Linked DNA regions of Homo sapiens. The protein of the gene in region 2 purifies or fractionates together with the protein of the main gene of each other region. This does not show direct contact. Each region holds a gene or a part of one and is shown on either strand. Other genes may lie near its edges. The genes, in order: POLR1D, POLR3D, POLR2H and POLR3H.

The links.
Region 1: the proteins of POLR3D (region 2) and POLR1D purify together in Homo sapiens (affinity purification with mass spectrometry; 8 studies listed by BioGRID and IntAct, with this or other methods). This does not show direct contact.
Region 3: the proteins of POLR3D (region 2) and POLR2H purify together in Homo sapiens (affinity purification with mass spectrometry; 4 studies listed by BioGRID and IntAct, with this or other methods). This does not show direct contact.
Region 4: the proteins of POLR3D (region 2) and POLR3H purify together in Homo sapiens (affinity purification with mass spectrometry; 8 studies listed by BioGRID and IntAct, with this or other methods). This does not show direct contact.

What each region holds. Positions count from the first base shown.
Region 1 is NC_000013.11:27,617,856-27,623,968, reverse strand, and holds POLR1D (DNA-directed RNA polymerases I and III subunit RPAC2), read right to left. Parts: upstream 2,078-6,113; 5' UTR 1,986-2,077; coding exon 1,960-1,985; intron 1,095-1,959; coding exon 719-1,094; 3' UTR 520-718; downstream 1-519.
Region 2 is NC_000008.11:22,248,128-22,255,120, reverse strand, and holds the end of POLR3D (DNA-directed RNA polymerase III subunit RPC4), read right to left. Parts: intron 6,968-6,993; coding exon 6,843-6,967; intron 6,641-6,842; coding exon 6,472-6,640; intron 6,078-6,471; coding exon 5,812-6,077; intron 5,047-5,811; coding exon 4,894-5,046; intron 4,726-4,893; coding exon 4,603-4,725; 3' UTR 520-4,602; downstream 1-519. UniProt on the Homo sapiens protein: DNA-dependent RNA polymerase catalyzes the transcription of DNA into RNA using the four ribonucleoside triphosphates as substrates.
Region 3 is NC_000003.12:184,356,848-184,364,709, reverse strand, and holds the start of POLR2H (DNA-directed RNA polymerases I, II, and III subunit RPABC3), read right to left. Parts: upstream 3,001-7,862; 5' UTR 2,564-3,000; intron 2,470-2,563; exon of another isoform or gene 2,206-2,469; intron 2,105-2,205; exon of another isoform or gene 1,986-2,104; intron 1,838-1,985; 5' UTR 1,218-1,837; coding exon 1,145-1,217; exon of another isoform or gene 1,136-1,144; intron 1-1,135. Other genes in the region: CLCN2 (chloride channel protein 2), read left to right, coding at 3,231-3,293, 5,579-5,735, 5,897-6,028, 6,400-6,528, 6,615-6,748, 6,854-6,931, 7,012-7,090, 7,223-7,348 and 2 more. UniProt on the Homo sapiens protein: DNA-dependent RNA polymerase catalyzes the transcription of DNA into RNA using the four ribonucleoside triphosphates as substrates.
Region 4 is NC_000022.11:41,541,451-41,548,290, reverse strand, and holds the start of POLR3H (DNA-directed RNA polymerase III subunit RPC8), read left to right. Parts: upstream 1-3,820; 5' UTR 3,821-4,189; coding exon 4,190-4,300; intron 4,301-6,840.

The DNA.
Region 1 (6,113 bases), on a different chromosome or scaffold from region 2:
TTTTCTAGTCATCCCAATTTTCTCCTTCTGTAATATAATCAAAACATCTTACCTTACTTAGATCATGACTAAGTATATCCCAAAATTCAAGCAGTAAACTGGTATCTTTCCTGTAAATGCCTCAAAGATGGAGCCTTACTCCCTAAAACTCTCATGTAAAACCAGAATTCTCACACTTCTTCCAAATTATTCCCACCCTTGCCAAGTCTACCAATCACAGCAAATGATGCAATTCTTTAAAAGCCAAAAAGTTTAGCAAGAAGCCAAGTCCCCACCCCAATCTTCTTTCCTTCTGTTTTTAAACAACAATCTAACTGGGGTCATGGTTTTTGTCTCTTCCCTTACCCCCACCACTCCAACTACAGACATGGATATATACTTCTTTTAATTCCCATGATCACAGTTCTTGTCTAGGCCTCTGATATTCTCAGTTTCCTCATTTTCAATGCTGGCTTAATTAGAAAAAAAGTCATCCTCAAGGACCATTTGGTTGCATGGAACAGAAACCAGTCAAACTAGTTTAAATAAAAGAGGGAATTTATTAGAAGAATACAGAGGTTCTTGCAGAGATTCCAACAGCTGCAAGGGGTCAACAGCTAGAATCACGCCTTTCTGAAGGACAGAGTATGCTGTAACCACAAACTTCTAATTCTGGGTTCTGCACCATCAGGAAGAGAATATCCTACAGGACAGTTCTCCTTGTATACTGCATAAAGGACTAGAATGTGGATTCATTTCTGCTTGCTTTTTGATCCTTATAGTCCTTTATGCTGGCCTCAAACTTGTCAAGCACATGTTGGCAGACATTCATGAGCTCATTCAGGCCTCTCTGAAATGGCTCAACAGCTGGAAGGGTACCTCGAGTCTGAATGCGTAAATTAATTTTGCTCTCTGAAGGATGGGTCGTAGTGTAACCACAAAATTCCACTTCCGGGTTCTTCATGATCATGTAACGTAGAGAATTTCCTAGGGTATGGTCTTCCTCGTGCAATACAAATGTCACACAGTGTCTATCTGTTCCAGCTGCCTGGACCATTTCCAGGGCTGTCTTCCTCTCGCCTTCAGCCATTGAGGTCTTCAATCCAGATATTTTTCTACACACATATTTTTTATAAAAATGAGATCATACTGAATATTGTTTTGTAACTAGCTTTTTCTCATTTACTATATCACATTGCAACACATTATTATTAATCTACTCCAGCTACACAGAATTATTCGCCTCTCATTTTCCTGCCTCCACAAACTCTATCAATAAATATTTAATTTATTGCCTCCAGTTTTTCCCTGCTCCATTTGACCATCCACACTGGCCACAAGGGGAGTTTTCTTAGAAAAACACAAACTTAAGTGTTTGCAAAAATATTTTTTGGTAGAGTCACAAGCAAGGGATAGGATTAGAATAGGACTGGTCCTGCTAGAGGATGAAGAGAGGGTTGAAAGGCATAGAAATCCCGATTGCTCTAGTATAAAAATAGAGGATACAGATGATCAATGTGCAGGCCCAACTACGGCTTCCATTTTGCAAGAGAAGGAAACTAGGAGAATGGAAGGTTCAGGAGTCAAGCAGCAGGGAGAAAAAGAGCTCAGCGCACAGAGTGGCTTTAGGAGCAGTCTGCACATAGAAAGAAGGTGAGCCGTAGTTACAGGGACAGAGGCACGAGTACCGTCCTCAGGAGCAGAGGCCCGGGGCGTGATTTTTACACACTGCTGTTGTAACGGGGGTGGGCAGTTCGGATACTTAACTCTGGTCTCCCAACTTGTCTTCCCTCCTTGATAGCTAGTGTACCTCTCAGCCTCTCAACTGAAACACATTCATGTCTCCTCCCCACTTCTCTCTCCATGCTTCTTCTCTGCGCCCCGAGTCAGGCCCCGGCTGCCAGGCCAGGCAGCGTGCCCCTCGGCCACCCGCTCCCCTTGGGCGCGGCCCGCTCCGCCCGCCTCCTCCTCGGCCGTTACCTCTCCAGCTCCTGATCCTCTTCCATCGCTGGGGCGGTTTCTGGATCCTCAGGTGGTGCTGGCGGATCGGGGGCTCTGTCCCATAGCGCGAGGCGCGGAGGCGAAGCAGGAAGCAAGGACCGACCGACGGAAGGCGCGGAGGACGGAAGGAGGGAGGAGGAGCCGCAGCGGCGCGGCAGGGCCCAGCCGCGGGGCGGGGCATGAGGCTCCACCCCCAGCCCCCGCCCCGACGCGGGGTGAGCGGTGGCTCGCGGCCCCGCGGCTCACCTGGGCGACCACGCGAGGCCACTCGCGGCGGGAGGGGCAGGGGGCGGGGCCAGCGCCGCCTTACCCCGAGGCCCAGACAGGCCTGCGGGCGCCCCGGCTCAACTCTGGTACCTTTCCCCAGGTGATGGCGAAGGGGCGCGGCCTTACCTGCCGCCCCCAAATCACTTCCCTTCCCAGTGGCAAGTCCGAAAGCGGCCCGACTTCCCAACTGGGGCGGTGTTGACCCAGGATGGCCCTTCCTGGGACCCCGGCCCTCCCGGGCCTTTTGTGGGACGACAGGCTTAAACTGTAGTCGGTCAACACACCTTGAAGAGGGAGGGGGGTCACGTGCGAGATGAGTCACCACAGAATACGAAGGTTGAAGGCGGTATTTGTTTCACCGGGGAGCTTGCAGTTGCATTTTCAACTGGGTCAAAATAGGGCAAGAAAGAAATGTCTCTTTTGGGGGAGTGAGAGTTTGGGAGAAAACTGTTTCCCACCTTATCCTTTCCGTCCTAGGATTCCTTCTACCCCCAGAGCGCGTCCTCTCCGGCTGTAGACTTCCTTTTCCCTTTCTCCCCAGTGGCTCCTCAAACCTCCTCACCTGCGGAACCCGCCCTCACCTTTGTTCCCAGGCGCCCAGCCCCCGCCTCGGCAACCTTTCGCCGCCCAGGCTCGCTCTCCATCCAGCTCCCTGCGTCCCGGCCTTCGCTGTGCTCCCTCAGGTGCGCTTCCTCTCGAATCGGCCCTTCTTGTCCCCTCGCCGCTGGCCCCGACCCTGCCCGACTCCAGCTGTCCAGCGCAACTACGTTTCTGCTTCCCTGCGCCACCTGTTCTCCTGGCCTCCCCCCACCCCGCCCCGCGATTCCTCTGGATGTTCACTCCTTCCCCAGCTGTGCCACTCTTGGCGGCGGCCGGGGGTGCGCGCAGACACCTAGCCAGCGGGGCTTCCGCAGGGGAATCAGGCGGGCGGCGGGGACAGCCCGGGGCGAGTGGGGGAGGCGGGCGGCGAGGGCGGAGTGGTCTCACTCTAACCCGGGAGTGACGGGTCCCTTCTGGCCCGCCTCCCGAGCTCTCGGATAGGTGGAGCCGCCCTCTGGTCCGCCCACCTCCCGCCCTGTGCTACCTCCGATTGGCCCGGGTGCGGGTTGGGCCGCTCGGCCTTGGCGCTGCCCCCGGGAAGGCAGCAGGGGCGGTTGAGAAGTGAAGTCTTGGCCGGAGTTTGCTTTTTGCCAGGAAATCCGCGGCGGCGGCGGCGGCGGCGGCGATTCCTGGCGGAGCGGAGCCGGGCAGGCTCTCCGCTCCCTCAGCGGGCCGCGGAGAGCGGGAGCTGGTGCCGAGCAGCGGCGCCAGGAGCCCGTGCGCGGCCCGGGCAGCCGCGCTTTCCCAGTGAGTAACTTTGCCCTGCCCGCCTCGCTGCGCGCCCTCTCGCTGGCTGCGGGCAGCCGCCTCAGGTGCGGGCGTCAGCTGGGTGTGGGTCAGCGCCGCGCCCCGGGAGGCGGCCGGAGCGGCGCCACAGCTCGCCCCGGAGCCTTGGTCCTTCGCGGCTGTCTTCGCTCGCCCGGGCTGCGGGGCTGGCGTGGACTCGGGTGTGGGTCTGGTCCAGGAGGGAGAGTCGGCGCCCGGTGCCCGCCGCCTGCAGGCGCCCGGGAGGCGGGCGGCCTCCGGCTGTTAGCGTTTGCTGGTTCCGGCCACCGTGGTGCAGAGCTTGGCGTCGTTTGCTTCTTAAGGGAAGGGAGAGGTGGGGTGAGTGTTTAAATTTCCTCTGTGTGTGTGTGGTGTCGGCAATGAGAGTGGCACTAGCTGCCTTTATCGGGTTTTGTTCTCTGGAAAGGGATGGGGAGAGATCATTCCCTCCGCCCCAGCCTGTTGCCTGTGAATTCTCACCTTTCTCTTTAGGCTGGAGAGGGTGGGAGAGAGATTTGACATCTTCCAGGGGGTAATTTAAAAATATGAATCTTGATTTGGAAGCAGTTGCACACAAAGCATCATTCAGGAAATACATCACTCGCTTTTCAAAGCTGTATGCCACGTTTTAAACAAGGACTTTTGACTCATGTAGTGTTTCTTTTAGTATTTCAGTTTACGTTAAGTTTATGAATCCAGACGTTCGTTTGTACCAGGAGCTAAAGTACACTTATGCATGGGCTTTGCTGTGTATATTATGCTTTTTAAAATCACAGAAATCAGAAACAAAGTTGAGTGAAAAGCGGTGGCGGTGCAGGAGGAGGAACACTTGTGAGCTCCAGCTTATTGGAACTGCCTTTAAGAATTTCACATTCTTGCGGCAATAGTACTTACTTGTAAATTGGCCTTCTTCCCAGGACAGGTTTTGATATTTCTTTTGCATGTACTTCGATGCAGCACTAATGAAGTTGGATCTCAGTAGATCAATTTTATTTACTTTGCTAGATTTGATTCCCACCCCCACACCTCTTTAGAAAATGGACTTTGGCAGGTAAAGAAGGAAGCGGGAATCTGGTATCCTTTTTGGCTTGTCAAAGCTTTGTTGAGCCATGAATAACAAAGTTTTGGCTTTTTAGCTTGTCCGAGTCCCACATGTGAGTTTTCCCATGGGGTAAAAGTAGGCCAAATGAGAACCAAAGTAGAATAACATCACTTTTAATTCGGCCCACTTGTGTGTTACATTCTCCATATATCTTGTTTCTCTCATCAACTTTGAAATTTTTTCATTATTTATTCATTTAGCCACTGATAAAGTACCTACTGCATGCCAGCCATTGATGGCGGGGGTTGCTTCTTGCCCAGTTTTCTCATTTGGAAACTGATCCATGCCTTTATCCCACTAGTTACCCTGAAGTAATTTGAACTTAGGGAGCATTTCTGCCTGGAGACCTGTAAGAATAGGTGTTACGTAGGCACTTAGTCTTCAGATTGGTTTGGGATTTCGTACATTGTAGGCACGTAGCACGCAGGCCACTTAAAAATAAATGTATGTGTCTTTGGGCTGTTGTATTACGAGCTTTGCATATGGGCTTGTCTGGCCGAAGGACCCAGTGTCCGAGGTGGAGGTAGTAGTCAGGGACATGTATTATTCATTTCAGAACACTTGGCACCTTTTCTTGCTTACATTGGGCACTAAAATATTTACTGAATTGACTTGAACAGAAAAATGAAGGATTTTTTATACCAGATTAAGAAATTTGGACTTTATCCAGTCAGTGATACTGAGCTGCTAATTTTAAGCAGGAGAATGTCATGATAACGGGTAAGCATTCCAGAAAGATATCTGCAGCGTCTGGAGGATGGTGGGCTTCCAGATGGGCGATATGGAGACTAAGTTGGAGGCTGTTCTAATGGAGGGGTTAAGTGCTCAGGGATTCTCTATTCAGATTACCTGGGGTGGAATCAGGCTCTGTCATACACTGAAACCTCTTTGTTCCTTAGGTTTGTCATCTCAGAGTTTGGGGGATAGAACTTGAAAAAACATGTCTATTACTTAGAATAGTGATTGCCAGATAGTAAGGACTTAGTAAATGCTAGTGTGCTGGCAGTGGAAGGAGAAATGACGTGGTGTTTAAGAGGTATGACTAGGAGGCTGGACTAGGTAAGTGACTGGGTAGGCTTAAGGAGGGAAGGATGAATCCTGGGTTGTTTGACTTCAGGCATTGATTGACATGTACTGGGTAAGCTGGCTGTGAAATTAAAACGGGTCAAATTCTAATTCTATTACTTACCCTTAGAATAACTATCCTGACAGAACTTTGATTTCCTAACATTTGGGAAATGATTGTCGTACCTGTTGAGTAGGGTTTGAGGAATTATGCATGTAATGCCTTTGGCAGGGTACCTAGCACATTCCAAGTGCTCAGTAAATATTAGTTGTTCCTTTAGATGATGACATTAATGAGCTAGTGGAATGTTGGAGGATATGAGAAGGAGCAGTT
Region 2 (6,993 bases):
AAGATGTAAAGACTGCATTTTTTTTCTGACTATATCTTAAATGTAGATGAGCCAAGTAACAAAGTCCAACTTCTGACTCAGTTTTTGGGAAGACAGATCAGTGGTTACCCCAATGGAAGGGAACAGAAGAAATGCTTTAGAAGAGCTGAGGCAGAAAGTGGCCATGCAGAGGGCTCCTAGAACTGGTGTCCCATCACCATCTCTGTTTTTTCAGATGACACCCCTAAGACCTGAGCCCCTTCTGGGCCCCACACTCCACCTGTAGAACTCTGATGGGGCCTTGTGCGGCCGAACCACAATCCAAGAGAGGTGTTCACATCATGTGTCGCTAGCCACAGCCATCTCAAGGGGAAATGCCCCAAATGTAGAAGTATCTGACACCAGGACTGGGGGTTGGAGCACTGGATGAACAGCGTGTGTGCCACTCTTTCACTGTGCACCGTCCTAAGAAAGAAGCCTGTTTCCCTTTGAAGAGCCTAGTGCTGACTGCCCAATTCAATCGGACCACGCAGGGCAGTCTGAGGATTAAAAGATGCTACCTTTAATTCCTTCGGCTAATTCAGAAGTATGTGAAACACAACATACTCATTAACATGGAAGAACTGGATGTGTGTGCATGTGGGTGTGTATTATTTATTTTTCAGAGACAAGGTTTCACCATGTTGCCCAGGCTGGTCTTGAACTCCTGGGCTCAAGTGATCCTCCCACCTCAGCTCCAGAGTAGCTGGGAACGAAGAATTGTATGTATTTCTGAGTGAGATAGAGTACACGATAAAACCACATAATTTATATCATTATAAATAACATACAAAATTTTGGAGGCTGAAATAATATACATGAGCAGTCATAAAATACAATGAAATCATGTGCTTTGCAGCCACATGGATGGAGCTTGAGGTAATTATCCTAACCTCGGAAACAGAAAATCAAATAGCACATGTTCTCACTTATAAGTGGGAGCTAAATAATGGGTACCTATGGACATAAAGATGGAAATAGCAAACACTGGGCACTCCAAAAGGGGGTGAGTGGGAGGGGGGGCAAGGGTTGAAATGCTACCTGAGTACAATGTTCACTATTTGGGTGATAGGTATGACAGAAGCCCAATCCCCACCAGTACGCAATATACACAAACACGCACATGTGGCTGGGCGCAGTGGCTCACGCCTGTAATCCCAGCACTTGGGAGGCTGAGGCAGGTAGATCACTTGAGGTGAGGAGTTTGAGACCAGCCTGGCCAACATGGTGAAACTCCCGTCTCTACTAAAAATACAAAAATTAGCCAGGTGTGGTGGCATGTGCCTGTAATCCCAGCTATCTGGGGGGCTGAGGCGGGAGGATCACTTGAACCTGGGAGACAGAGTTGCAGTAAGCCAAGATCACACCACTGGGCGACAGAGTGAGACTCCATCTCAAAAAACAAAACAGAACAAAACAAAACAAAACAAAACTAACATGCTCATGTACCTGCTGAATCTAAAATAAAATAATATACACTAAAATGTTAAAATTGATTTTAGTAGAATAAAAGGTGACTGAATATTTTAAAAAGTTATGCCTAGATGAATACTTTATGATTTTACATTGCAGCATTTTTTGAACATGGCAGCAGCTACTATGAATTGTCTATCCAACTGCCACTCCAGCTTCCTCCCTACTAACAAAACCCCAGCTCAAGGGCAAGTGTGCTCAGTGCCAGGGGATACACTAGTCGACCCATCCCCCTTTGCCAGGGCCTGGTCCAAGAGTGGGCACGTGGCCCCACTCTATAAAGAGACAGGGGGGAGGTTGCTGGAGCTGCTGACGGTTATTCCCGGATAAGGGCAGAATGAGAAGGCTCCTGTACTACTGTCCACTCTGGCTGTGGACACCATCATTTGCAGAATGATGCTTGGCGCAGGAGCAGCCATTCTGCAATACTGAGGATGGCAAAGCAGACGGTTCCAAGGAAATCCTGATGACATTTTGGCTTCCACCCAACTCTAGAACCATCTATTTACAGACTTTTTGCTATGTGAGATAAACATTCCCATTGCTTAAGCCACCGTCAGGCTAATTTTCTGTTACTTGTGCTGATCACATCCTGTTATAGGCAGTTATCTGTCTGGCACCGAATAAATGCCTCATGTTCACTCTAATTTAAAAGCAACCCTATTAAGCTACTACTGTCTCACTCTTACATAAAATAAAATAAATAAAATCAAGCTTAAAGAGGATAAGTGATTTTTTCCAACCAAAGTTACTGGTGGAGTCAGATTCAAACCCAACCGTGACTCGACAGCCTGGACTCTGCCACTTAAACATGTAGTTAGAAAAGTGTGCAAGCCTATTGTTCCTTCTTTCTGTATTTAACAGAAAGCATATACACAGATGCAGGGAGCAACAAATTTGCATCCACTTGCACTCATGTATAAATTTGGCTTTGGGCTCTTCTCCTCTGTCATCTGTCCATATTCCTTGGTAGAAATGCATGCCTCAGGGGCCTGACCAAGAAGGTGGACTCTCCTCTCTTTTCCCACACTTATTAATAAGACCTAATTTGTGCATCAGGGATCTGAGACAGGTTGTGAGGACTTTGATACGGAGTCATAAGGTTCAAGCCAAGACATCTGAATGGGCGAAATGAACGTGAAAGCAGTACATGTTCTTCCTCAAACTTTCTTGGAAGGGTCAGAAAACAGAAGATTGAAAAATACCCAATATCTAACATCGGGCCATTGAGTTCGTCCAAAAAAAGCAGAAGAGTATTTCTGAACCAAAGAAACAGAATAGAAAGAGAGGATGAGAATGGAGACCTGCTGGCCGTGCATCAGCTATTTAAAGGAAGAAAGGGCTGGAGCCCAGAGTTAACCAAAGCTTAGCCTTAGACCAAACAGGGCTTCCCAGCACAGGTTTCCAAGGAACCCTTTCTGCTCCAGTCCTCTACAGTGAGAAGAGCCCAGAATAACACTGTCCAATGGAGCTGACATGAGCTTCAGCACCAGAAAGGGTGATATGGTCACCAAATATTCAGTCAGCCTCACAGCTGCTGGCTGGGCAGGTTGAGGGCTTTGTAGGAGAAGCCCAGCCTTGACAAATGAGTAACAGGCTTGAGGAACTTTGAAAAGAAGGAAGGTGAGCCTGAAGGAAGATGTACCCAAAATCTAAGGGGCCACTAGGAATCAGGGATGGGGGTGGAGGGGAAGCGGTTCTTCCTGAGCCCCTATGGTTCATACTGTCCCAGAGGCCAGGTGCCACGACGCCAGCAAAGGGAAGTTGTGCCATCAGCGTCTAACAGCCACACACGCTGCCGCATGAGACCTTTTTCTAACCTGCAAACGTCTCCCCAGCTGAACCAGGGAAAACCCCAGCCCTACTGTCAAGACAAGAGGAGAAGCTGTTCCTCCAGGGACAACACAGTACAATGACCTGGTAAAGGGAACAGGATCACAGACCCAAAAAAGTAACACTGAGTAGGTGGCTCTGGCAGTGCTAGGACAGGAGACGGGCAGGCCTCTGAAACCCAAAGTTTTTGAAGTGGGCATCATCGGCCAAGTGTCAAAGAGGCCATTATTCAATACATCCCTAACTTCTCTTATGAAGGATTTAGTTTTTTTGTTAGCAATATATGACTTCGGCTCATACATGAGTACTAACTGCAAAGGAAAGAGTGCAGGGAACATGTCCTGGGCCCAACATGTCCCCCAAAGGCTTTTGTAGGGTGCTGGGAGGGGTCTCTGACTTCTTCCTTTCTATTACCTGCAGCTATTACAGTAACTCACACAGGAGGCACCTGGCTAACAGGAGCCAGGAGAAAAAGGCATAGAACAATCTGACACCATAAATTTAGGGCATCAGGCCCAGGGTGAGGACGGGATATAAAGCAGGAAGGGGCAAGAGTGGGGACGGGAGCAGCTCTAGTCGCTGCTTCTGGGAGATTTAGAATCTCTATTTTGTTTGAAAATAGACTCAGGTAGAGAAAAAGGACATGAACGTTTATTGAGTGCCTGCTGGTTCTGGCCTTGTGCAGTTTTCATCTATAATAGCCCATGAATCCTCACGCCAACCCTGGAGGTAGGTATCATCCCCATTTGTGTCGGATGAGGTATAGGAGGCTCAGAAAGGTTAGGTAGTTTGTCCAAGGACACAGAACCAGGAACTGGCAAGCTGGGACCGAGTGCTTAAGTCTCAGACTCAATCCTTGCTCTCTCTCCTATACTGCCTCCAGGAGGACGGGGGGAGCACCAGCAGAAGCTGCAGTCCACACGCTTCCTGCCCCTGCAACCCAGCAGGCACCAAGAGAAGCCGGCCCCTTCACACAGACCCTCCCCATCTACCCTTGGAGGATGCATCAGTGGAAGAGATTAAGACATAAATACAAAAATAAATAGCAGGGCCAAGTCCCCAGCAGCAAGGATGTGCCATCTCCACGCTGCAGGAAGGTCACTGTGCCATTCACAGCTGCTGTGGGAGGAAGCCCTGGGGGACCTGGAACAATGGTTGCCAAAGGCTGGAGTGAGTGGGCTCAGTGGGCCCCTTCTGGGTCTCACAGATTCAAGAACAAAATGTCTGGAGCAGGCAGCAGCCGTGGGCACAGGCGCCGTCCTCCTCCACCTGCTCATTTTACCGGTGTTTGTGATCCAAGAGGGATTCAAAATCAGGGGAACATACAAGTTTGTGCTTCACGTGTCCCAGGACTGTCATCTCCCCTGTCCTACTGTCTCCAAGGCCCACGGACACCAGCTCCTGCCAATTAACAGAGACAGTGATGAGAACCACCACCACGTGCCCGGCGTGTAGAGCTGTGAATGGGGACATGATACTCCCAGAAACCCCCTCCCTTATTTAGCAGTGGCTCTTCAATCCTCCTTCACTCCTGAAAGGGTCCCTCCTTGCCCCTAAGGAGGCTCTTACCTGCAGGAAGGAGCAGGCAGTTCCCATGGTCACGTCCAGAGTCACCTTGCCCAAGAGGAGTTGCACCCTTCCAGACTTGCGGATGAGTAGCTTGCCAACCTGACCCTCTGTCAGGTCAGCCAGGGTACAAGCATTCTCTGCCAATTTGGCTTCCTGCGGAGAAAACCAGAGGATGGACACTGGGCTAGGAGCTCTTTCCTCCATCTTTCATGAACCCCCTTCTACTCCCCAAGAGAAAGGCACAGCAAAGGTCAAAATGAGCTCCCCAAAGAGTGCCTTCTCCTAGGGCTGTCTGCTATGGTTAAAATACAAAACCCACAGCAAACAAATACATACACGGACAAAATATCAGTTACTGCTGAAGCTGAGTTCTGGTACATGGCGGTTTACGTTCTCTTATTTTTTTGAGACAAGGTCTGACTCTGTCGCCAAGGTTGGGGTATAGTGGCATGATCTAGGCTTACTGCAACCTCTGCCTCCTGGACTCAAGCCATTCCCCCGCCTCAGCCTCCCAAGTAGCGGGGACTACAGGCACACGCCACCATGCCTGGCTAATTTTTGTATTAGCCATGGTGTCACCACGTTGCCCAGGCTAGTCTCGAACTCCTGGGCTCAAGTGATCCTCCTGTCTCAGCCTCCCAAAGCGCTGGGATTAGAGGCATGAGCCACCGCATCTGGCCATATGTTCTCTCATTTGTGTTTGAAATATTTCCTTATAAGAAGTGAACACACACCCCCACAACACATACACAATTGGGGTTGGAGGTACAAAGCCCCATGGCTCTTGCAGGCGTCAAGAATAACCACCCATTATTGTCCCATTTCAGCCAGGGTGACACGGCTTTGCTTCCCACTACAGGTCACCACTTCCCGTCCCAGTCCCCGACTTGATTCCCGCAGGCCTCTGTCTGAGCGTACTCGGTCTTTCTCCTGCTTGATGAGCACCACCTGTCCGTCCTCGCCCTGCACCTCTGTCTTGATAGGCTTGATGTCCTGGGTGGGTGGCTGGCCAGGGAGGGTGTCTGGCAGCTGCAGAAACAGCAGTTCCTCTTCCTTGGTGAGGCTCAGCTCCCTCAGCAGCTCTGCCACAGATACATCCTTCGGGAGGCCTGGAGTCTTCCTGGCTGCTTTGGGAGGAGCCTTCATCTTGGCCTCTTCCTCCTCATCTCGTGGCTCCTCTTTCACTGCCCGGGTGATAGACATGGAATGCTATCAAGTGACCACCCTCCATACCAGCTCACTGTTACCAGCCCTTTGCCCCTGTCTGCTCCACTGTCACTCAGCCAGGGAGTGGGAAGGAGGCACCAGTTATACAGAGGGGCAAGAGACAACACGTTCAAGTCTCACATGACTTATCTAAAAAGGGACATCTGAGGCTAGGCCCACTGCTCCCTGTCAACACAGGAACCCTCTGCGAGGGAGAATGGAGCATCTTTGTTCAGCTCATGTATCTTACAGCCGGAATGGGAGGACCTGCTCACGAGCAGCAGTCAGGGGCACATGCAAGGGATGCCTGATGCACGGGATTCCTGGGGAGCAGCCATGGAATTGGAGATGAGAAGTTAACCGACAGAGTACCTTTCACAGCAGGTATGTCCACCTCCATGTCCTCTTCCTTGGGGCCAGCCAGCCAAGGTTTAACATCTGGTTCGTCATTTTCTTCCTTAAAAAGCCATCCTGAGTGAGCCAGCGGCAGCTGCACAGGCATATTTCGAGTGTCGTTCCTCAGGCCGGGGTCATCGAGGAACTGCCAAAGAGAGTCTGGGTCATCCAGCCTGCTAGCACATGCACCTGGATCAAAGTCTGCTTTAGTCCCTTTCTAACCAAAGATTCCGCTGCTCCCCAGGATTCCAGGACATCAGTAAGCTCTTCTACCCCTCACCTGGCTCCCCAGAAGCCCTGTTCTACAGCCACAAGGAAACCCCTTCCCCCAGCCTCCTGGTACCCACATCGTCCTTCTCCAGCATACGCAAGATCTGTTTAGTTTCTTCGTCTGTCTCTCTCTTCTCTTTTTTGATGTTGATGATATGAGAAGGTCCCATGTCTGACACATCCACTGTCTTATCCCAGTTCCCTGTGGGAAATCACCCAGGTCACTAG
Region 3 (7,862 bases), on a different chromosome or scaffold from region 2:
CTGACTCTGGGCAAGTTATTCAATCATCCAAAGGTTTTCTCTTTCTATGCTAGGCACTGTGCTGAGGGGAGTGACCAAGATGTATAAGAACTGGTATCCGTCTTGAAAAACATCTTAGTCTCCAGGCAAAGAAAGAGACATCAAAGAGAAAATTATTGATAGATGACAAAATAAAGAGGTGTAGGCCGGTGCAGTGGCTCATGCCTGTAATCCCGACATTTTGGGAGGCCGAGGCAGGTGGATCATTTGAGATCAGGAGTTTGAGACCAGCCTGGCCAACACGGTGAAACCCTGTCTCTACTAAAAATACAAAATTAGCCAGGCGTGGTGGCGCATGCCTGTAATCCCAGCTACTTGGGAGGTTGAGGCAGAGAATCGCTTGAACCCGGGAGACGGAGGTTGTGGTGAGCTAAAATCGTGCCACTACACTCCAGCCTGGGCAACAGAGAAAGGCTGCGTCTCAAAAAAAAAAAGGTATATACCAAGCAGCTAACTCTAACTCAAAGAAGACTTCACAAAGCGCTAAAGATTCTGAGGGCAATACAAGAATATAGGCTCTGAAGTCAGATTACTCGCTGTGAAGCCTTGGGTGGTTTACTCAACCTCTCAGAGAAAAATGGGAAAGGCACCACCCACCTCATGAGGACTGTCATTTTTTTGAGACGGAGTCTCGCTCTGCCGCCCAGGCTGGCGTGCAGTGGCGCGATCTTGGCTCACTGCAACCTCCGCCTCCCAGGTTCAGGCAATTCTCCTGCCTTAGCCTCCCAAGTAGCTGGGATTACAGGCGCCCGCCACCACGCCAGGCTAATTTTTGTATTTTTGGTAGAGACGGGGTTTCACCATGTTGGCCAGGCTGGTCTCACAAGACAGTGTCTAGCACAGAGCAGGTAGCGATTATAAATATGCCTAGGAGTTTGCCAGCACCATGACAAAAGGCCACCCAGGCACCGGGCACGGCATGCGTGAAGCCAGAGAGAGCTCGGGAGTCTCCGTTTTCTCATCCATAAAATGTTTACTGAGGGAGGTCCCTACACCAGGACCTGCTGGTAGGGGCAGGCCACAAGAGCTGGGTGGACACGGGGCCCAGGGGCATGTCCGCGAGGTTAGCCTCTTCCTCCAAACCGCCCCTACATACCTTACTTACCTCGGTCAAACTTCTTGCCCTCCGGGTCAATATCCTTCACATCGAAAATATCCTCAAACAGGATGCCCGCCATCGCGAGGGGGCCACGAGAGCAGCAGAAGGGGTGAGAGCGCGACCACAGTTGGGAGTACGTGCACCCCCTAGCGTGGACAAGACCGGAGAGAACCAAAAGCACCTCCTGAAAGCGCGGCGGCCAGACGAGAGTGGCGCATGCGCACAAACAAGCGGTAACGCGACCACTTCCGCCACAGCCTCCCGCTCGGGGCTACTTAACTTCCGTCCCGAAAGATTGCTTCCGAGAGGCTTCGGCATTGAGGGCGGGTCTCATGTCCAGGTGGCTCTGCCCAGGGCGGGGAAGCAATAGGCTGTAGAGCGGGTTCTCGCGCTCCGCTGGGGCCCTACTGCGCCCTCTTCAGAGGCCGGGTTCCGAAGACTGGAATGCGTGGGGGCCTAACCCAGGCAGGGACCTTGATCCTTGGCCCAGAGAAGCCGGGCCCTAGCCCTACCCCGCCGGTCCGCGTGCCCGCCGAGGGCACAGTCCGCGCCGAGGGCAGGTGGAGCAGAACCCCGCCCCAGAGGTGCCCAGCCCCTCCAGCCGGCACCGAGGACCCCGGGGCCGGCCTGGGCCGGCTCGGCCCTGCTGGACGTAACCCGAGCCGGATCCGTCCAGTTTGGGAATTTGCCATGACGTCGCTATGGAGAAGAGGAAAGCCTGCATTGTCCCCTCCTCTCGTACTGCACCCTCCCACCACTGCCCTCCCTCTTCCCCCCAGGCCCTGCTCTCTTCCCCTACACCGCCCCTTCAGCCGGGCTCCCGCCACCCCCCTCCCCCGGGCATTACCCCTCCAGCTTAGTGCTGCGCGTTCCCCCTCCACTGCCTTCTCCTGGACACGGATCCCCTCCGTGCCCCTTCAGCCTGGCACTGCCCTGTCCCTTGGATACCAGCTCTTCCCTCACACTGGCCCTTCCTCCTGAGTGCTGGCTTCTATCACAAGGCCCCCCCTTCCCGGGCACTGCTCCCGCCCCCTGAGCCCCGCCTCTGCCTCCCAAATGCCCCTTACTCCTGGTGCTGGCTCTCCCGCACACTTGTGCGTTTCCTGGGCGCTGCCCTCGCTCCTCTCACACTATCTCTACGCTGCCCATCCACCCTGCGCGCGCTCCGCCCTCTGTTCTATCCTTCCCCAGCCCCTGATAGAGAACCCAGAACACCAGCAGGCAGTTCCCCCAAAGCGGAGGGATGGAAGCAGCGACTTGGGTTCCTCCTTGGGCCCAGCCAGGGAGAAGCGACCCACGCCCGCGTCCCAGGAGTAGACTTCCCGGCACCTGGAGCTCCCTTCCCTCCGGCCTACCCCTTCCGGTGCCCTCCCCAACCTCCACCCCCGCACACCCCGCAGGCCCGGTTGCTCCAAGTGCACCTACCCACGGGAGCCCCGAGAAAAGGAAGGATGAGGAAGACGGCCCCAACCCTCTCCGAATCCTTCCAGCTTTGCTTTTCACCCCTGACGGGGCAGAGGGGCCTTCCCAGGCCTGTCTGGGCCGCTCGTCTCTTCGGAGGGGCAGAGGGGAGGCGGCTCCTAACGGGCTGACCCGGAGGAGTCCGATGTAGACAGCTCCGCAGCCCCCAGCCCCAACCCCTACGGAGCTCAGGCGTCTGCAGCCCCTCCTGCCTGGGCACGGGGAACCGCGAACCCGGGCCGGCCCCTCCACGTGCCAGTAGACCCGCCCCTCCCGGGCGCCCCTCTCCGACCCGGGCATCCGCAGGGAGCCGGCGCGGGCTTGCGCCTTCCCAGCGCCCCTTGCCGCCTCTCGGGAGGCCCCGCGCGGACCCCAGCCTGGCTGGGCCGTCCCCTCCGGATGGGCCGGCGGGCGGAGCAGCGCAGAGGGCACCGCCCTCGGCCCGCCCGCCGGGGAGGGGACGCGAGCGGGAGGCTGCGCCAGCGGCGCCCGCCGGGGGCCCGCCGCACTCTGCTCTCGGCCTCCCGGGCTGCGGGGACGGGACGGCTGCCGGCGCGGACTTTGCGGGCCGGGAGCCGAGTCCAGGACAGAGCCGGAACCGCCGAGGGAGGCGAGAGGGCAGTGCGCGGAGATGGCGGCCGCGGCGGCGGAGGAAGGGATGGAGCCACGGGCGCTGCAGTACGAGCAGACCCTGGTAAGTGAAGCTGAGCTGAGCCCCAGGAGTGCGCTCCGGGACCCCTGCTCCAGGTTACCCTGGGAAGCGCGAGGACCAGGGGCCTACCCTAATCCTGTCCTAGCATTTTGAGCTGGGGAAACTGAGGCTTGGAAGTCTGAGGCTGCAGGGCCGAAGGGATGGAAAACTGCATGCTGGTTTCTGGCTGAGGCTGAGGGCCTGCAGAGGACAAGGACACCAGGTACTTGTCTCAGGTGTCCTTCCCCTCACCCCACAACATGCACGTTTTCTTTGCACCTCCCCTTCACCACCTGGGCCCAAGTCTCAGCACCCCACTGCCCCTTCCGCGGCACCATTCACACCATTGAACTTTCTCTACGCCACTATCTCCACCACCCAAGACATTCTCTGTGTCCCTGCCATGTGCATGGCACCATGCTAAGCATAGAATCGAGTGTGTAGAAAGATGGTCAGCCCCAGACCCTACCTCTGGAGGCTCCACACCCAGCGTTGGCTCCAGGAGCCCCTCAGTTGACTCTGGAAAAAGGTGGCTTGCCACTCTGGGGGACAGGAGCTTTAGGGAGGGTGGGTGAAGCAGGAATGGGTGTGGGAATTGGGACCTTTGTCTATGCTGATGCGGGGTATCCAGCCCCCACCCACCCCAGGGTGTGTCCCCTGACCTCATTAGAAGCAGGGGTCCTGGGCTCTGAGCTGACTTATCGCCCCCATTGTTACTTGGTGTTTGAGAAGCCACGTGACCCTCCTCATGTCACTGGGGTGGAAGACCCAAGCCCTAGGGAAAGGAAGGGGCCCGTGGTTCCTTTTTACCAGCTTGGGCTGGAATTTGCCCAGGAAGGTGGCAGGGAGGGAACGTCTTGGAGAGGAGAGGCTATAAGTCTGGGAGGTGCCCAGTTAGGAGAAAGTAGCTGGATGAATCAGGATGTCAGGGAGAGGTGGGAGTAGAGCAAGGGTAGAGGGGCCAACCCTTGGGATGGGGTAGGAGACACTTGCCAATCTGCCCAGACCAGGATAGGAGCATGGTCAAGGAAGCCAGGCACCTGGCCTCTGAAATGGTGCCTCTTAACACCAGCCACCTCTCCATCTCCGTCCCTTCCAGCTGTCTCTGGAATGAGCTCTCAGGGTCGAGCTCTGTCCCGGGCACTCTGTGCTCCAGCCTGCTCCCGCCCCCCTTCACCATCCTATCCCTTTGTCTTTCTCTCCCACTCTCACCTCCCTCCTCCTACACCGTGCTTGCCTCTTAATACTCTCCATTCTCTTCCTCCTCCGTACTTCTTCCTCTCTCATCCCCTTCTTTCTCTTCTCCATCCCTTCGCCTTCCCTCTCTTTTCTCTTCTACTTTCTCCTCTCTAGTTCCCTCTCTTCTCTTTGCTTTCCCTTTCCTATCTCTCACCCTCTCTCTGTCTCTATCTTTCCCTCCCTCCCTCCCCCCCATCCCAGCCCCAACAGGAGCCCTTTGTGTCCCGAAGCTCTGCGGGTGGCAGCCAGAATCTACTCCTCCCCGCCCCCCAACACACGCCCAGCTTGGCAGGTCTAGCCATGGTTCAGGCGACTCTCCCGTCCCATCACCCCAGCATCCACAGTCACAGCCCAGCCATCCTCAGCCTCCGCTGTCCCCCAACCCACCGCTGGGCTCAGTGCAGCTCCAGAATGGGGCTGAGGCCACCAAGCCCTCTCCACCCACCCTAAGTGAGAGGCTTTCCACTCCCAGCTGGGCTGGCAGGCTGGTGGGGGTGGCAGTGGAGAATGGGGACAAGGGGATTAGGGTGGGTGGGAGAGGTGCAGCTGAGTTGGTCACAGGCCGGAGGCCCAGCAGGAACGTGATAAGGATTGGGGCTGCGCCTGCTCCTGGGCCCAACTCAGCTGCCCCGAGCTCCACGAGGCTCTTATTGTTGCCCATGTGCCCCTGATCATCCCTTACTCCCTGGCCTTCCCGCCTCCCACTTTTAGACTGTGCCACAGGTTTTTCCACCTTTTCCTCTTCTGGGGCTTCCCTCTCACTCCTCTTCAGTGCCCCAGCCCCAGGCCTGTGAGAAGAGGACCGATTATTCTGCCACCCCCAGAGCTGTGTCCCTGTACCTTGGCTGTCCCCATCACTCTGGCCAGGACAGCCTCCACAGTCTGCAATGTGCATTGTTCCCACACCTCGGGCCAGAGTGGGAACTGTGCGTTCAAGAGGGATATCCAGTGTGGGGGCTGGGAGAAGAGGAGTGGAGGCTCTAAGAACTCTCCCTGCGTTCCCACTCAGCCCATGACCTCGAATGCCCCCATCCCCTCTGTTGCTCCAGATGTATGGCCGGTACACTCAGGACCTTGGGGCCTTTGCCAAAGAGGAAGCTGCTCGGATTCGCCTGGGAGGGCCTGAACCCTGGAAAGGTCCCCCTTCCTCTCGGGCTGCCCCAGAGCTCTTGGAATATGGACGGAGCCGTTGCGCCCGATGCCGCGGTGAGAACTGGGGTGGGGGCAGGGGACCTGGCTGTGCTGTGCTGAGGGAAGCAGAGGCCATTAGAGCTGCTGATGGGGGAGAGGGGACAGTTGAGGGGGCAGTAAAAGGGGTAGGAGCACTTTGGTGCCATCCTCCCCCTTCTTCCCTTCCCTGCACCCAGTCTGTTCTGTCCGCTGCCACAAGTTCCTAGTATCCAGGGTTGGTGAAGATTGGATCTTCCTGGTCCTGCTGGGGCTTCTCATGGCATTGGTCAGCTGGGTCATGGACTATGCCATTGCTGCCTGTCTGCAAGGTGAGGGTGACAGCTGGCAGGGGGAGGACTGGGAATAAACCTCCTGCGTCCATGCCACACTCGTCTAGACATGGAGGAAGGCGTCTTGGCTTCTTGGCCACTGACCACTTTCCCCAGCCAGTCTGACTGCCCAGATTCAGGCATCATCTCGGCCACTCCCACAGGGCACAGCTTCTTGCATCCCCTCTCCAAGTGATCCTCTTGCCTAGATTGCGCTTTGTCCCAGTGAATACCCTCAGGGACCCTTTCCTTCACCCATGCCCTGACTCTGTGTGGTACTCCCTGGGACAGCCTGTCGTATCAGCGTGGTCCACTGGCCAGGCAGGCAGTGGGTGTGTGCACTGGGGGTCCAGCAGGTCCTCTTCCCACAGCCCAGCAGTGGATGTCCCGGGGCTTGAACACCAGCATCTTGCTCCAGTACCTGGCCTGGGTCACCTACCCTGTTGTCCTCATCACTTTCTCAGCCGGATTCACACAGATCCTGGCCCCTCAGGCTGTCGGTATGTTAGAAGAGAAGGGGAGGGCAGAGGCGGGACCCCTGAAATGGGTGCATCGAATGCCTCTCCTGAGACTGTTCCCTCTCCAGGCTCTGGCATCCCTGAGATGAAGACCATCTTGCGGGGAGTGGTGCTGAAAGAATACCTCACACTCAAGACCTTTATAGCTAAGGTCATTGGGCTGACCTGCGCCCTAGGCAGCGGGATGCCGCTTGGCAAAGAGGTAACTGCAGGCTGGGGAATGAAGGAGTCCCTCCTGGTGGAAGAGGAGGCCAGGCCAAGGTCAGGGCGGGCCCCCTCCCGACTCACCGCCTGCCCCACCCCGCAGGGCCCTTTTGTGCATATCGCAAGCATGTGTGCTGCCCTTCTCAGCAAGTTCCTCTCCCTCTTTGGGGGTATCTATGAGGTAAGGGGAACCCTGGGGCAAGTAGGGGGCAGAGGCTGCTGAGCCCACAGCTGACCCCCTCTTGCCACCACTCTCGCCAGAATGAATCCCGGAACACAGAGATGCTGGCTGCCGCCTGTGCCGTGGGGGTGGGCTGCTGCTTCGCGGCACCTATTGGAGGTAGGCAGGGCTCCTAGGTCAGTCCAGCCCCACAACCCTGCCCTTGGCCTCTCCTCCTTGGCCCCTCTTATCTGGGTCTGAGGCCTTAGGCCAGGCCCAGGCCTCAAGTGCTGGTCTCCCTCCCCCTCACAGGCGTCCTCTTCAGCATCGAGGTCACCTCCACCTTCTTTGCAGTGCGGAACTACTGGCGGGGCTTCTTCGCTGCCACCTTCAGTGCCTTCATCTTCCGGGTCTTGGCAGTCTGGAACCGGGATGAAGGTGGGGGCACCCAGGGGATGAGGGCAGCCCGAGATGGTGCCAGGTAGGGGGCCCACGAGGCTAGGCCTGCCTCCCTCTGCTGTTCTTCCCTTTAGAGACTATTACAGCCCTCTTCAAAACCCGATTCCGGCTCGACTTCCCCTTTGACCTGCAGGAGCTGCCAGCCTTTGCTGTCATTGGGTGAGGAGCTGAGGGGGCTGGGGGTATCAGAGAGGAGGGGGGTTTCTAGAAGGCTCCTTTTCACTCAGGTGCCTCTTCCCTTTCCAGTATTGCTAGTGGCTTCGGTGGAGCCCTCTTTGTCTACCTGAACCGGAAGATTGTCCAGGTGATGCGGAAGCAGAAAACCATCAATCGCTTCCTCATGAGGAAGTGAGTGGCTCTCGGCTCCTCTCCAGGCTGCTTTGAGTTGTATAAGGGCCACAGTAGGTCAGGGGACAGTGATGGGGAGAGAATGGCCCAGTCAAAACAGGCACTTCACTGAGAAATCAGCCAGCAGTGTTTTCCAGGCTGACTG
Region 4 (6,840 bases), on a different chromosome or scaffold from region 2:
CACGTTGCTATAAAGAAATACCTGGGCCTGGCGTGGTGGCTCACGCCTGTAATCCCAGCACTTTGGGAGGCCGAGGCAGGCAGATCACCTGAGGTCATGAGTTTGAGACAAGCCTGGTCAACATGGTGAAACCCCGTGTCTACTAAAACTACAAAAATTAGCCAGTCGTGGTGGCATGTGCCTATACTCTCAGCCACTCAGGAGGCTGAGGCAGGAGAATCGCTTGAACTCAGGAGGCGGAGGTTGCGGTGAGCTGAGATGGCACCTCTGCACTCCAACCTGGGTGACACGCACAAAAAAAAAAAGAAAGAAAAAAGAAATACCTGGCTGGTAGTGGTGGCTCATGCCTGTAATCCCAGCACTTTGGGAGGCCGAAGCTGAGGATCACTTGAGGTCAAGAGTTTCAGACCAGCCTGGCCAACATGGCAAAACCTTGTCTCTACTGAAAGTACCAAAATTATCCAGGTGTGGTGGTGCACGCCTGTAATCCCAGCTAGTCTGGAGGCTGAGGCAGAAGAATCGCTTGAAATGGGGAGGTGGAGGTTGCAGTGAGCCCTGATAGCGCCACTGCACTCCAGCCTGGGCAACAGAGCTGGTTAATTTATAAAGAAAATAGGCTGGCTGGGCACGGTGGCTCACGCCTGTAATCCCAGCACTTTGGGAGCCCAAGGCGGGTGGATCATGAGGTGAGGAGATCGAGGCCATCCTGACTAACACGGTGAAACCTCATCTCTACTAAAAATACAAAAAACTAGCTGGGCGTGGTAGCGGGTGCCTGTAGTCCTAGCTACTTGGGAGGCTGAGGCAGGAGAATGGCATGAACCCGGGAGGTGGAGCTTGCAGTGAGCCGAGATCATGCCACTGCACTCCAGCCTGGGCGACAGAGCAAGAATCCGTCTCAAAAAAAAAAAAATAGGTTTAGTTGGCTCATGGTTCCACAGGCTTTACAGCAAGCATGGTACTGGCATAGGCTCAGCTTCCAGGGATGCCTCGGGAAGCTTCCCATGATATCGGAAATCAAAGGAGGAGCAGGCACATCACATGGGGAAAAGAGGAGCAAGAGAGAGAGTGGGAGGAGGGAGGTGCTACACACTTTTTTTTTCAAGATGGAGTTTTGCTCTTGTTGCCGAAGCTGGAGTACAATAGCGCGATCTCTGCTCACCAGAACCGCCACCTCCTGGGTTCAAGCGATTCTTCTGCCTCAGCCTTCCTGAGTAGCTGGGATTACAGGCATGCGCCACCACGCCCGGCTAATTTTGTATTTAGTAGAGACGGGGTTTCTCCATGTTGGTCAGGCTGGTCTTGAACTCCTGACCTCAGGTGATCCGCCCACCTTGGCCTCCCAAAGTGCTGGGATTACAGGCATGAGCCACACGCCTGGCCACCACACACTTTTTTTTTTTGAGACGGAGTCTCACTTTGTCGCCAGGCTGGAGTGCAGTGGTGTGATCTCAGCTCACTGCAACCTCTGCCTCCCGGGTTCAAGTGATTCTTCTGCCTCAGCCTCCCAAGTAGCTGGGACCACAGGCGCGTGCCACCACGCCCGGCTACTTTTTTTTTTTTTTTTTTTTTTTTGTATTTTTAGTAGAGACAGAGTTTCACCGTGTTAGCCAGGATAGTCTCAATCTCCTGACCTTGTGATCCACCCACCTCGGCCTCCCAAAGTGATGGGATTACAGGTGTGAACCACCACGCCTGGCCCCGCCACATACTTTTAAATGACCAGATATTGGCTAGTCACGGTGGCTCATGCCTGTAATCTCAGCACTTTGAGAGGCCAAGATGGGGGGGATCACCTGAGGTCAGGAGTTCGAAACCAGCCTGGCCAACATGGTGAAATCTTATCTAAAAATACAAAAGTTAGCTAAGTGTGGTGGTGGGCACCTGTAATTCCAGCTATTTGGGAAGCTGAGGCAGGAGAATCGCTTGAACCCAGGAGGTGGAGGTTGCATTGAGCTGAGATCATGCCACTGCACTCCAGTCTGGGCGACAGAGCAAGATTCCGTCTCAAAAGAAAAAAAAAAGAAAAGGCCTGAACCGAAGCAATAGCAGTGGGAGTGGAATGAAGAGGAAACATTTGAGAGGAAGAATTAATGGTAATCCCTAAACACCTTTACTCAATGCTTCCTAGGAATGTGTTAGGGGATTGTGGGAATAAAGAGCTGAAGTAGCATTTGCTGCTGTCCTCAAGTACCTCAAATCCTATAGAAGCACACCTAAAAATAAAATCATAGATGCAGGGAAGGCCACATTTAGCATCACTGCAGCCAGTGTCACTGAGAGATCACTATGCTTGTGAAATCAGCAAATTAAGGCACCATACATTTCCAAGTGCCTCTGTCATTTACCCCAAGTATCTTTTGTAAGTACCTAAATTGTTATTTTGGTTAAAACACACTACAAGCCCGGGCGCGGTGGCTCACACCTGTAATCCCAGCACTTTGGAAGGCTGAGGTGGGCAGATCATGAGGTCAGGAGATCGAGACCATCCTGGCTAACACGGTGAAACCTCGTCTCTACTAAAAAAAAATACGAAAAATTAGCCAGGCGTGATGGTGGGCGCCTGTAGTCTCAGCTACTCGGGAGGCTAAGGCAGGAGAATGGCGTGAACCCGAGAGGCGGAGCTTGCAGTGAGCCAAGATCGCGCCACTGCACTCCAGCCTGGGCGACAGAGCGATCCTCCGTCTCAAACAAACAAACAAACAAAAAAACCCACTACAGTATACATCTACACCCCACCAATTTTTAGAGGCAGGGTAGTGAGGTTCAGACTGGGCCCACCTCTACCACTTGTCAACACGTGATCTTGGGTAAGCTACCAAATTCTCTTAGCCCATGCTATCACGTGAAGATGAATGAGACTGGAATGTCAGCGAGACAGAGCATGATGGGGCTATAGGAGGGGGGTATGGTCAGATCTTGCAGGGCCGTGTGAACTACCATAAAGGTTTTGGACTTTTCTTCTTTCTTTCTTCTTTTCTTTCTTCTTTCCCTTTTCTTTCTTCTTTCTTCTTCTTCTTCTCCTTCTTCTTTCTTCTTCTTCCGCCTCTCCTTCTTCTTCTTTTTCGTTTAGACATGAGGTGTCACTGTCACCCATGCTAGAGTGCAGCATGCAACCTCAAACTGCAACCTCAAACTCCTGGACTCAAGCGATGCTGCTGTCTCAGGCTTCTGAGTAGGTGGGACTACGGGTGTACACCACCACGCCCGGCTTGGATCTAGTATTCTAAGTTCAATGGGTTGTGTTTTTTGTTCCAATTTATTATAACTTTTCAATTGGAACATAATGTCTACAAATAAATGCAAAAATCTTGCCGAGTTCAATTAGTTTGGACAATTATATACGTCAATGTTATACCACCGAAAACAAAATACAGAACATTTCCATCATCTCAGAACAGTCCCAAGTGCCCCTTTCCTGCTAATTCTCCTTGTCTCCGGAACACTTAAGGGTGCTAAGCATGTTATGTTTGCGGTGGGTTTTTTTTTTAACTTAGATGTGGTAATATATGTTTGCGTTTCCAAAGGATCACTCTGGCTGCCGAGCAGAGGACAGCAATGCGGGTAAAGCACAGGCCAGGCGAGGGATAATCAGGCGGGATTGCACGGAGGTCGCCTAGCAACAGAAAGCGCTGTCGGGGGCGGGGGAACCGCTCTGCTCCTGTGAAAGGAGGAGGCCCCGCCCTCTCCTCGCCCTCTCTCTGCCCCACGCTGTGCGCGAGCACACAGGCAGCCCCGCCCCGCCTCGGCGGGGTGGGGGTGGACAGAGGTTTCTTATTGGTGAGTTTTCCGGAAGCGATGGATTCGGAATCTCGCCCGCAGTCGCGCAAGCGCGAGCGGCTGTGCGCGGTGCGTGGTGCGTGGTGCGTGATACGAGCGGCGGCACGTGGCGCGGGTGCGGGGCGTGGAGTGGCGTGGCGTGGAGTGGCGTGGCGTGGCGGGGTCTCGCGGCGCGGGCGCGCACCCGGAGCTGTGGACGGAGAGTGCCTCCCTCTGGCCTCAGTTTCCTCATGTTGTAGTAGCGGAGCATGGCCCGGACCGGGCCCCCGAGACCGCCCCGTGCAACCTCACCGCCAGCCTGGGGGCCTCAGCGACTGGGACGGGACCAAGGGGCTCGGGGATTCTCCCTGCCCCCGGCCCTGGTGCGTGACTGACCCTCCTGTTCCCAGAGCCCCCAGCGCAGGCCGGGATGTTCGTCCTGGTGGAAATGGTGGACACCGTCCGGATCCCCCCTTGGCAGTTTGAGAGGAAGCTCAACGACTCCATTGCCGAGGAGCTGAACAAGAAGTTGGCCAACAAGGTACTGGGCCCACGGCTCGCGGGCAGGCCTTGGCGTGGGAGAGCGAGCGCCGCCCACTGGCCGCAGGCCCGGCCTCGGTCATGCCAAGCCCTGGCCGTGGGCAAGCAGCTTAATGTCTCAGAACTTTTCTTCACCGTGAAAGGAGATATTGAAGGGGATCAAAAGAAAATGGGCTTGAAAAAGGGAGTTGTAACTGGAAGTGTTAGATTCCACAATTCTAAATTACTTTGCAATTGCAGGCAAGTTACTGACCCCTTCTGGGCCTCAGTTTCCATTTTTAAAATGGGGATAAAATATTGCTGTCCTTCCAGCCATGCATTGTTTTTGTTGTTGTTGTTGTTTGTTTTGTTTTGTTTTGTTTTTTGTTTTTGAGACGGAGTCTTGCTCTTTCGTCCAGGCTGGAGTGCAGTGGCGCGATCTCGGCTCACTGCAACCTCCGCCTCCCGGGTTCAAGCGATTCTCCTGCCCCAGCCTCCCGAGTAGCTGGGACAACTACAGGCGCGCGCCACCACCCCCAGCTAATTTTTGTATTTTTCGTAGAGACGGGGTTTCACCATTTTGGCCAGGATGGTCTCGATCTCTTGATCCCCCCGCCTCGGCCTCCCAAAGTGCTGGGATTACAGGTGTGCGCCATCGCCTCGGGTCAATGCATTGTTTTCGTGAAGATGGAGAGTTCTAGTAGTACAGAATTAACTGTCAGGAGGTTCATCCCTTCATTCCAGCAGCCAATATTTGTGCGCCTTCTCTGTGCTGTGCCTGTGTGCCTTAGTACCAGCTGAGAGGTCTTCCCACTGCCGTTTCTTTGACAGTCCTCCCTTTCCAGGTATTCTGTGTCACATCACTCTCTTTCCTTCTTAGACTTTTTCCTTTCCCTCTCCTTGAGAGCAGGGACCTTATCTGCCTTCTTCCCTGAAGTATCCCCTCATTTAGCCAAAGCCTGGCGGGAGTAGATGTCCCATAATTTTCTGTTTTGTGTTTGTGTGTGTGAGACAAGAGTGCCGCTCTTGTCGCCCAGGCTGGGGTGCAATGAAGCGATCTTGGCTCACTGCAACCTCCACCTCCCAGGTTCAAGCTATTCTTCTGCTTCAGCCTCCTGAGTAGCTGGGATTACAGGCACCTGCCACCACACCTGGCTAATTTTTGTACTTTTAGTAGAGACGGGGTTTCACCATGTTGGCCAGGCTGGTCTCAAACTTCTGACCTCAGGTGATCTGCCTGCCTCAGCCTCCCAAAGTGCTGGAATTACAGGTGTGAGCCACCGTGCCCGGCCATTTGTTGACTGAATGAATGAAACAGAGACAAGGCTCTGTGCTATAGTGTGGTGGGAAAGCAGATATGAATGAGAAGGGTCCACAGTTGAGTGTTTGGTGACAAATTGAGGTAAATGTTATGAGGGACAGGTGTTCACACACCTGTGGAACAAAGGAACGTCCCCTGGAATGAGGGGACCTGCAGCTTTGTTGAGGAGGTGGGGTTGAAGGTGAGATCTGATGGTGAAGTGGAGCCAACCAGAGGATTCCTTTCTAGGGTGGGAGGGGGCTGGGTGGAGAGAAGAGCCCTGAAGGCAGGAACTGGCATGTGCAAAGGCCCTGTGAAGAAGGAATACAGGCCGGGCGTGGGGGCTCACACCTGTAATCCCACCACTTTGGGAGGCTGAGGCGGGTGGATCACCCAAGGTCAGGAGTTTGAGACCAGCCTGTCCAACATGGTGAAGCCCCATGTCTACTAAAAATACAAAAAATAGCTGGGCATGGTGGCAGGCACCTGTAATCCCGGCTACTTGGGAGGCAGAGGGAGAAGAATCACTTGAACCCAGGAGGCAGAGGTTGCAGTGAGCTGAAATCGCACCACTGCCTTCCAGCCTGGGTGACAAGAGTGAAACTTCGCTTCAAAAAAAAAAGAAGAAGGGGTAAAATACCCACCATGGTGTGGAAGAGGCTGGTGTGGCTTGGGCAGAGGGGAGGGTGGGCTGGACAGGTGGGTGGGGGCCAGGCCACACAGCCCTGTAGGATGTCGGAGTTGAGGTATTGGTCTTTATCCGTGGAGCATCAGAAGGTGATGGGCTGAGAAGGAGCCAGAAAGAGGATGCTTAGCTGGCTTTACGCATGAGACAGGTCCCTTCAGAAGAGGTGAGGTTGATTTGGGGGTTGCTAGATAGTGAAGGGAACTCATGGAGTCTTTAAGTGGATGGCTTCTGGTTACTTTGTGAGGTTGAAGATGAGGGTCTGTTGGGGGATGGAGGTGTGGACCTTGAGAGAGAAGGTGTGGAAAGTCCAAGAAGGGAATATAGTCCCTTTGGGGTAGAGGTCCTGTTGGGACAAGTCTTCTAGTATTTGATTAGATGAATCGTTTGAGAGGGGGCCCACACAGAAATCCATGGTCTGACAAAGGGCACAGATCTTGTGGCATTATCTTGGTGAGGTCTGGCCACGACTCTGAGTTCTCTGAGCTTCTTGCTAATTCTTGGACAGTTCTTGCAAGGGTTCTAAGTGGGGGTGATGACACGGTGGCAGATAAGGAGACACTGAGTAGCCAGTCGT